Homo sapiens: one gene and its partner. The protein of the gene in region 1 purifies or fractionates together with the protein of each later gene. This does not show direct contact. Each region holds a gene or a part of one and is shown on either strand. Other genes may lie near its edges.

Evidence for each region. The genes of interacting proteins can lie anywhere in the genome.
Region 2: the proteins of MNDA (region 1) and ATXN2L purify together in Homo sapiens (affinity purification with mass spectrometry; one large-scale study listed by BioGRID and IntAct). This does not show direct contact.

Annotation. Positions count from the first base shown.
Region 1 is NC_000001.11:158,829,727-158,833,485, reverse strand, and holds the start of MNDA (myeloid cell nuclear differentiation antigen), read right to left. Parts: upstream 2,136-3,759; 5' UTR 1,929-2,135; intron 1-1,928. UniProt on the Homo sapiens protein: May act as a transcriptional activator/repressor in the myeloid lineage. Plays a role in the granulocyte/monocyte cell-specific response to interferon. Stimulates the DNA binding of the transcriptional repressor protein YY1.
Region 2 is NC_000016.10:28,832,999-28,835,524, reverse strand, and holds part of ATXN2L (ataxin-2-like protein), read right to left. Parts: intron 2,467-2,526; coding exon 2,171-2,466; intron 2,087-2,170; coding exon 2,017-2,086; intron 1,461-2,016; coding exon 1,314-1,460; intron 1,183-1,313; coding exon 1,110-1,182; intron 1,020-1,109; coding exon 832-1,019; intron 468-831; coding exon 338-467; intron 248-337; coding exon 126-247; intron 1-125. UniProt on the Homo sapiens protein: Involved in the regulation of stress granule and P-body formation.

The sequences.
Region 1 (3,759 bases):
AATGGTGAAATTGTTGGTTAACGGTTAGAGTTTTAGTTTTGCAAGATGCAAAGGCGTTCTGGAGGTTGGTTGCACAACAATATGAATGTATTTAATACTACTGAACTGTACACTTGAAGCTGATTAAGATGACACATTTTATGTTACATGTTTCTTAACACAATTAAAAGAAAACAATTATTATATTCAAAGCTTTCAGAAGCTTGGCAGTGAAAATATCCATACCCACAGCTCTTTGTGAAGAACTACTCATTATGAAAAGAAATAAATCTAAGAAATGTTGGAGGCCAAAAGGGAAGAAAGATCAAGCAAATACTTTAATTAGTGTTTTTACTATCTTAAAAATAAGTAAAGCCAGAGTCAAATAAAAGAAAACAGGAACTATATGAACATACTCTTAACAGGTGAAGTTGTATGTTTGGGGGACCAGAAGATGTGAGAGTTTGCTAAGGGGCTTGTCTTTAAGGAGAATATAGATTTTTTAAAAATAAGAAACTTGACAAGAAAGGAGAAGAAGAAAGCACAGAATAAGTGCTATAAATTGAAACAAAGTAAGATGGCAAAACCAAGTTAAAATATATACCTTTATAGAATTTGCATATCTGGACTAAACTCATCAACTAGGAGGAAAAATTTTCAATTTGGATTAAAAATAAATCCAGTCATATGTTGTTGACAAAGTACAAATAAAGCATAAGTTCACTTAAGTTTGAGAAAGAGCTGGAAAAGTTATATTCTTCAAACTCTAACTTAAAGAAAGACTTTTTAGGAAAAATAGTGTAGCTTAAAATAGGCTTAAGTCAATAAGTATCAGTACATAGTTTCACTACATAATGGTAAAGTATGCAACTTGGAAAAAGATATAATAATTTAAATTATATTATAAATATAATCTGTTATTACTTTATAAAGTAGCATATAGAAGTTTTTTCTTCTCTCTAAACACACACATAACATATATACTTAGATATACATATTCTATGTAAAAATATATGGTAGAAATCAAAAGAACTACAATGAGAAATTAACAAAATCACTATTAGAGTTGGAGATTTCACCACATCTCTCAGTTACTGAAAGAACAAGGTAAAAAATAGCTTAGATTTAGATTTAGATTTTTCAAACATAATTAACAAGCTTACTTAAGAAACTTTATCTTACTTAAATAGAATTTGGAATCCAACGTTTATAAACTCTTCTCAAGTACTCATGGAGTAATTAGAAAACATTCATATGTACAAAGCCATAAAAAAGTCAAAATGTATCCCAAAGTAGGAAATATATAATTGATTCTCCCTGTCTTTTCATTATACCTTGCCACAAAAAATGTTATCTATGACTGAGTAAAGCATAGACCATTTGAAAAAGAGAATTATTTCTTCTTACACTTGTTGTAAAATGAAGCATAAAATGAAACTGATTCATGAAAATGTAAAGATTATTTTTGAGTAAATGCTTGTAAAATTGAGAAATTAATGTGTGCACATGTCTATGCTTTTTAAAATAGAGATAAAATCATATAATAGAGATTTATATCCTGGTTTATTTTTTACTAAATATTACTTCATAATAATTTTCTTATCTGACTGTCTTGTCTTTTAACTTAGGCCCAAACCCAGTCACCAAGTCATCCTCCAGCCAAGAAAACCAAGTATCTCCTCTAAATATCAATTTATGCCAAAAGACACCCAAGAATTAATTTTTAAAACCTGCTGTAGACAAAATACATTTTTTTGGTTCATACCCCAATTGTGGTAGAATAAAAGATATCCATTTGCTACCTAGACAGTTAAAGCATTCAGTTCTCAGTTTTCTGAATATGATTGATAACAACACTTCTGGTCTCAGGCAATTATTCTCTACTGAGATGGTGTGGTTACCAACTAGATACCTAGATCTTTCTCTAAAGAACTTCCCAGAAATCTCACCTTAATGGATGCTTCTTCCACAATAGTCTTCAGAAATCCTGGAGTCACTGTCTTGTTTAGGACAGAATCACTGTCCGTAAAGCTTTGGAGAGATTAAACTGCAGACTATTTTAATCTTGTAAAGGGCTGAGAAATGAAAGCTAACAAGGAAAAATGGCACTTGTTAGAGCCACTCTCAATCTTGATTGTAGATGGCCTTCTTACACTGTCCTAATTCCTAACTAGAAAGAAGTTATGTAATCATGAAACAATTTTGAAGCCACGCCTATCAGCCTTTGTAGCTTTCTATTTCAGATGTCAGAGAAAGTGGTCAGTTCCTCTTTGTAGTAAGTAATCTCAGTCACAAGGAGAAATGACAGTAAATGGTGCCTCTTCTTCGCTTTTTTGACTTACAAATACTTGCTGAAAGGAGTTTCAAACTCAGAACTTTCTTATAAAGCTAACTTACATATAGGTCATTAGAAACCGGTAGCCGCTTGAATAAGGATCTTAATATAAATTGGGAAAGGCAAAACACCAAAGTTTCTCCCTCCTTTCCTGTTCACAGAGTGGCAGGAGCAGGAGATCTTGGTAGAGATGTCTATTGCTACCAGAACTTGACTTCATCTCTTGGATAGGGGTGGGTCTACTGTGAAATTGTTTTTGTTTAAATAGTACCTACATATTCACCCAGTTATTAATAACTGATACACCTGGAGCTTGACAGAGGCAGAAAGTCATTATGAATATGTAAATCCTTATTCAAATAATTTGAAAGAGTTTCATACTAGTTGCTCTCTTGAGTATAATAACTGAGCTGCCTTACCTTGATTATTAAATTCATGATTACTCATGCTTTTTGCATTATTTATGGATAGTTGGTTCATATCATGACTGAAACCTTGAACATTCTGGAACAGCACTGAAACTCTGGAATGATAGGGGGCCTGATAAACCCTTTGTACTGCAATTTTTTTTTCCTGTGAAGAACAGTGGGTGCACTACAAAGTATCATAACTCTGAATTGTCAAATGAATGGTATCAGTTAGCAGACAGTGCTGTGGTTACCAACTAGCTGATCTGTAAGCAAAATGTGGTCATGACTGGAAAAGGATCCCAAAACAGCTAATAGGGGAAAATGATCCAAGGCCATCTACAGAGAAGAATAAAGCTGATTGTCTTAATCCAAACCAGCAGCATAGAGAGAGTTAAAGTTTGGATTTGGAAACTGTCTAAACCCCACTAAAGCAGGGTAAATCAGAAAAAACCAAGAGGATCTAGAATGACAGCCACTAACACATGTGGGTGTTCATTGTTTCAGTTTCTCTCTTATGCTGATGCTTCGAGCAGGTCTTAAGGTAAAGGGTAAAGAGGAACACAAGGAAACCTTATCAGGTGCCCCACTTCAGTGTTTGGGAACCAAAAGAGCTCACGACAGGAGTTACCATGTTTCAGGACAGCTTTCTGCCCTGATATGGTTTGGCTCTGTGTTCCCACCCAAATCCCATCTTGTAGCTCCCATAATTCCCACGTGTTGTGGAAGGGACCTGGTGGAAGATGAATGAATTATGGGGGCAGATCTTTCCCATGCTGTTCTCATGATAGTAAATGGGTCTCATGAGATCTGATCGTTTTAAAATAGTTTTTAAAAAATGGGAGTTGCCCTGAGCAAGCTCTCTCTTTGCCTGCTGCCATCTACGTAAGATGTGACTTGCTCCTCCTTGCCTTCCACCATGATTGTGAGGCTTCCCCAGCCATGTGGAACATTAAGTCCAATAAGATTCTTTCTTTTGTAAAATGCCCAGTCTTGGGTATGTCTTTATCAACAGCATGAAAACAGACTAATAAAGTA
Region 2 (2,526 bases), on another chromosome or scaffold:
GCCACACAGGCCAGCAACTCGCTGGCCCCCAGTCCTCGCCACTCAGAAATGACCCCTAGCTCTATCCCTTCTTCTGGCCACCCATTCCTGCACCAGGACCACTCAGCACCCCCCATGGCAGGCACCTGGACAGGACTGGGGGCCGCATGCTGGGACTGCGGCTGGCTTCCAGTAGGCGTGGTAGCCGGCTGCGGCTGGTGGGCATGGAGCTGTGTGGCATGGTGTGGGTAGGACTGGTGAACAGTGGCTGCAGCAGGAAAGAGGGAGAACCAGTGCTGAGCACACCAGAGGGGGCTGGCACACAGCCCAGAGCAGAGGGACCAGGCGCAGGACTCACCATAAAGGGCTTGGGGGGTAGGCTGCTCTGCAGAAGGGTACTGAGGGGTAGAGGATGACACGATGGCCTGGGGATGGCTGCCCGACGTCAGCATGCGTGGGTTGCTCTGAAGCATGGGGGCAAACACCGGCTGGCGGGACAGAGAGAGGAGTGGTTGGCACAGCCGCCAGCTGGGAAGGTGTCCTCCTGCCAGTCACTGCGTGCACAGCACCGCTTGGGCCTCCTCACAATCACCCTATTGATTCAACATTCATAACGATCCCACCCAGCAGACACTATTTTCTCTACACTTCAGAGATACAGATGTCCAATGCCTTGTTACAGGTACCACCAGAGCCAGGGCTCAAGCCCAAGTCTGACACCGCCAATACCACAGAGGGCCGATCCCACCTACAACACTGCCTGCCACCCCTAGCCAGCTCCCAAGTCTCTGGAGAAGATGGGATCCCTAGCAGGGGCCCTGGATCCTCACTGCCCTCCTGGGCCGCAGTCACCTGTGAGGGGTAGTGGGCCATGGGCTGCATCATGGCTGGCTGGCCTGGGAACTGCTGAGGGTTGTAGGGGATGTAGGAAGAATAGGGCGTGGCAGCCACCAGAGGCGGGCCAGCAGCCGCGGCGGCCTGCATCATCGGCGGGGCTGAGGCTGGCTGGTGTTGGTCCGAGCGCTGCGGAGGAAGGGAGCCTGGAAGAGGAGGAGGAGAGGAGAGCTCAAGCTCCACCTGCCAGTAGGCCCTTGGCAGCCTCGCCGCCTGCCCCTCCCAGCCCTGCTCACCTTTTGCTCCCCGGTACTTGCCCTGCTGCCCAGGCACTGAATTGGATACAGGATATGGATACATCTGAGGTGCCTGGGGATGAGGACACAGATGAGGCTGAATGACTCGCTCACGAATGCCCAGACAGGCCTGACCTGGTCCCTCAACCAGCGCAACCAAATCCCACCCCGCTAACCCTGGGCCCGGCCAGTCTCTCTGCATACCTGCACAGCTGGTCCCATGTGGATCTGAGGTATGTAGGAGATGTACTGGGGGCTGTATAGCCCACTCTGGCCTGCTGTCAGCACCGGGATGGAGGGAGTTGAATGAGTCCGGGGCCCCGGAGAAGTTGGGGTACTGGTGGATTTATTCTGCAAAAACAAGGGAGGACAATTTTATTTTGTATTTTCCCCTCTACTCCTGGCCATGCCTAGAGTGGTAATAATTAACATTCGTGAAATGCTGCATACCAAACATATTCTGCACTTATCTTGATAAAGCCTCACATTAAACCCTATGAGGAGATGAGTATTCTAAAGTTACAGGTGAGGCAGAGAATGTAAGTGACGTCCAAGATCACAAACCTTCCAAATACAGGGGCTCAAGCCAAGTCAGCTGGCCTCTGTTCATGACTACCCCACTCCAATACTCCCTCAGCCAAATGCCAAGAACCAAAGAAAAGCCTGTTAACCCCTCATCAGACTCACTGGGATCCCTGATCCCCTGATCACCCAAACCTAGAGACCTGAGTCCATTTTCCCCAAGCCAGCCCCAAAGGTGCCATCCTTACATTTTTATGACATCTCCTCACACTGCCTGCCAGGCAAGTGGTCCTGGAAGTGAAGTGTTCCTCCCCCTATTCATCTATAAGCACTGCCCAAGTCTCCCCACAGAAACCAAAGTCCACATTCTCCTGTCCCAGCTCACCACAGACAGCAGAGGCTTTGTAGGATTGAACTCCTTAGCATTAGGGTTCAACGTTGATTTCTTTACTTGTCTGTGAGAGAAAGTACAGTAAATCTTCACGGCTTGCTCTCATCCCTCCTGCCATCCTCCCAGAGCCCCACCCCGCTCCACTCACTCAGCAACAGGGCCCTCATCTTTGTCTTCTCCCTTGATGAGGCCCACCGGGGGGCTGCCAGTTTGGCTTGGACAAGGTGGTGGGGGCTGCTCTGGCCCCTCAGTGCCTCCTGATGGTGCCAGGGGTGGTTTGTCCTCCTTATCCGATACGGACTCTGTCTTGGAGGAGACGGGAGACCCCATGGGCTCTGAAGTCAACAGACCATCAACCTCTTTCTCCTTTCCTTTGGGCTCCTCCTTTAAGATCCGGGGAGGAAAAGGATCCAGGCTGTTCTCAGGGGAGCTACTGGGCTGAAGCTGGAAGAGAGAAACACACACAGTCCAGTCTGACCCAGACCCTAGTCCTGGCTTTCTTCT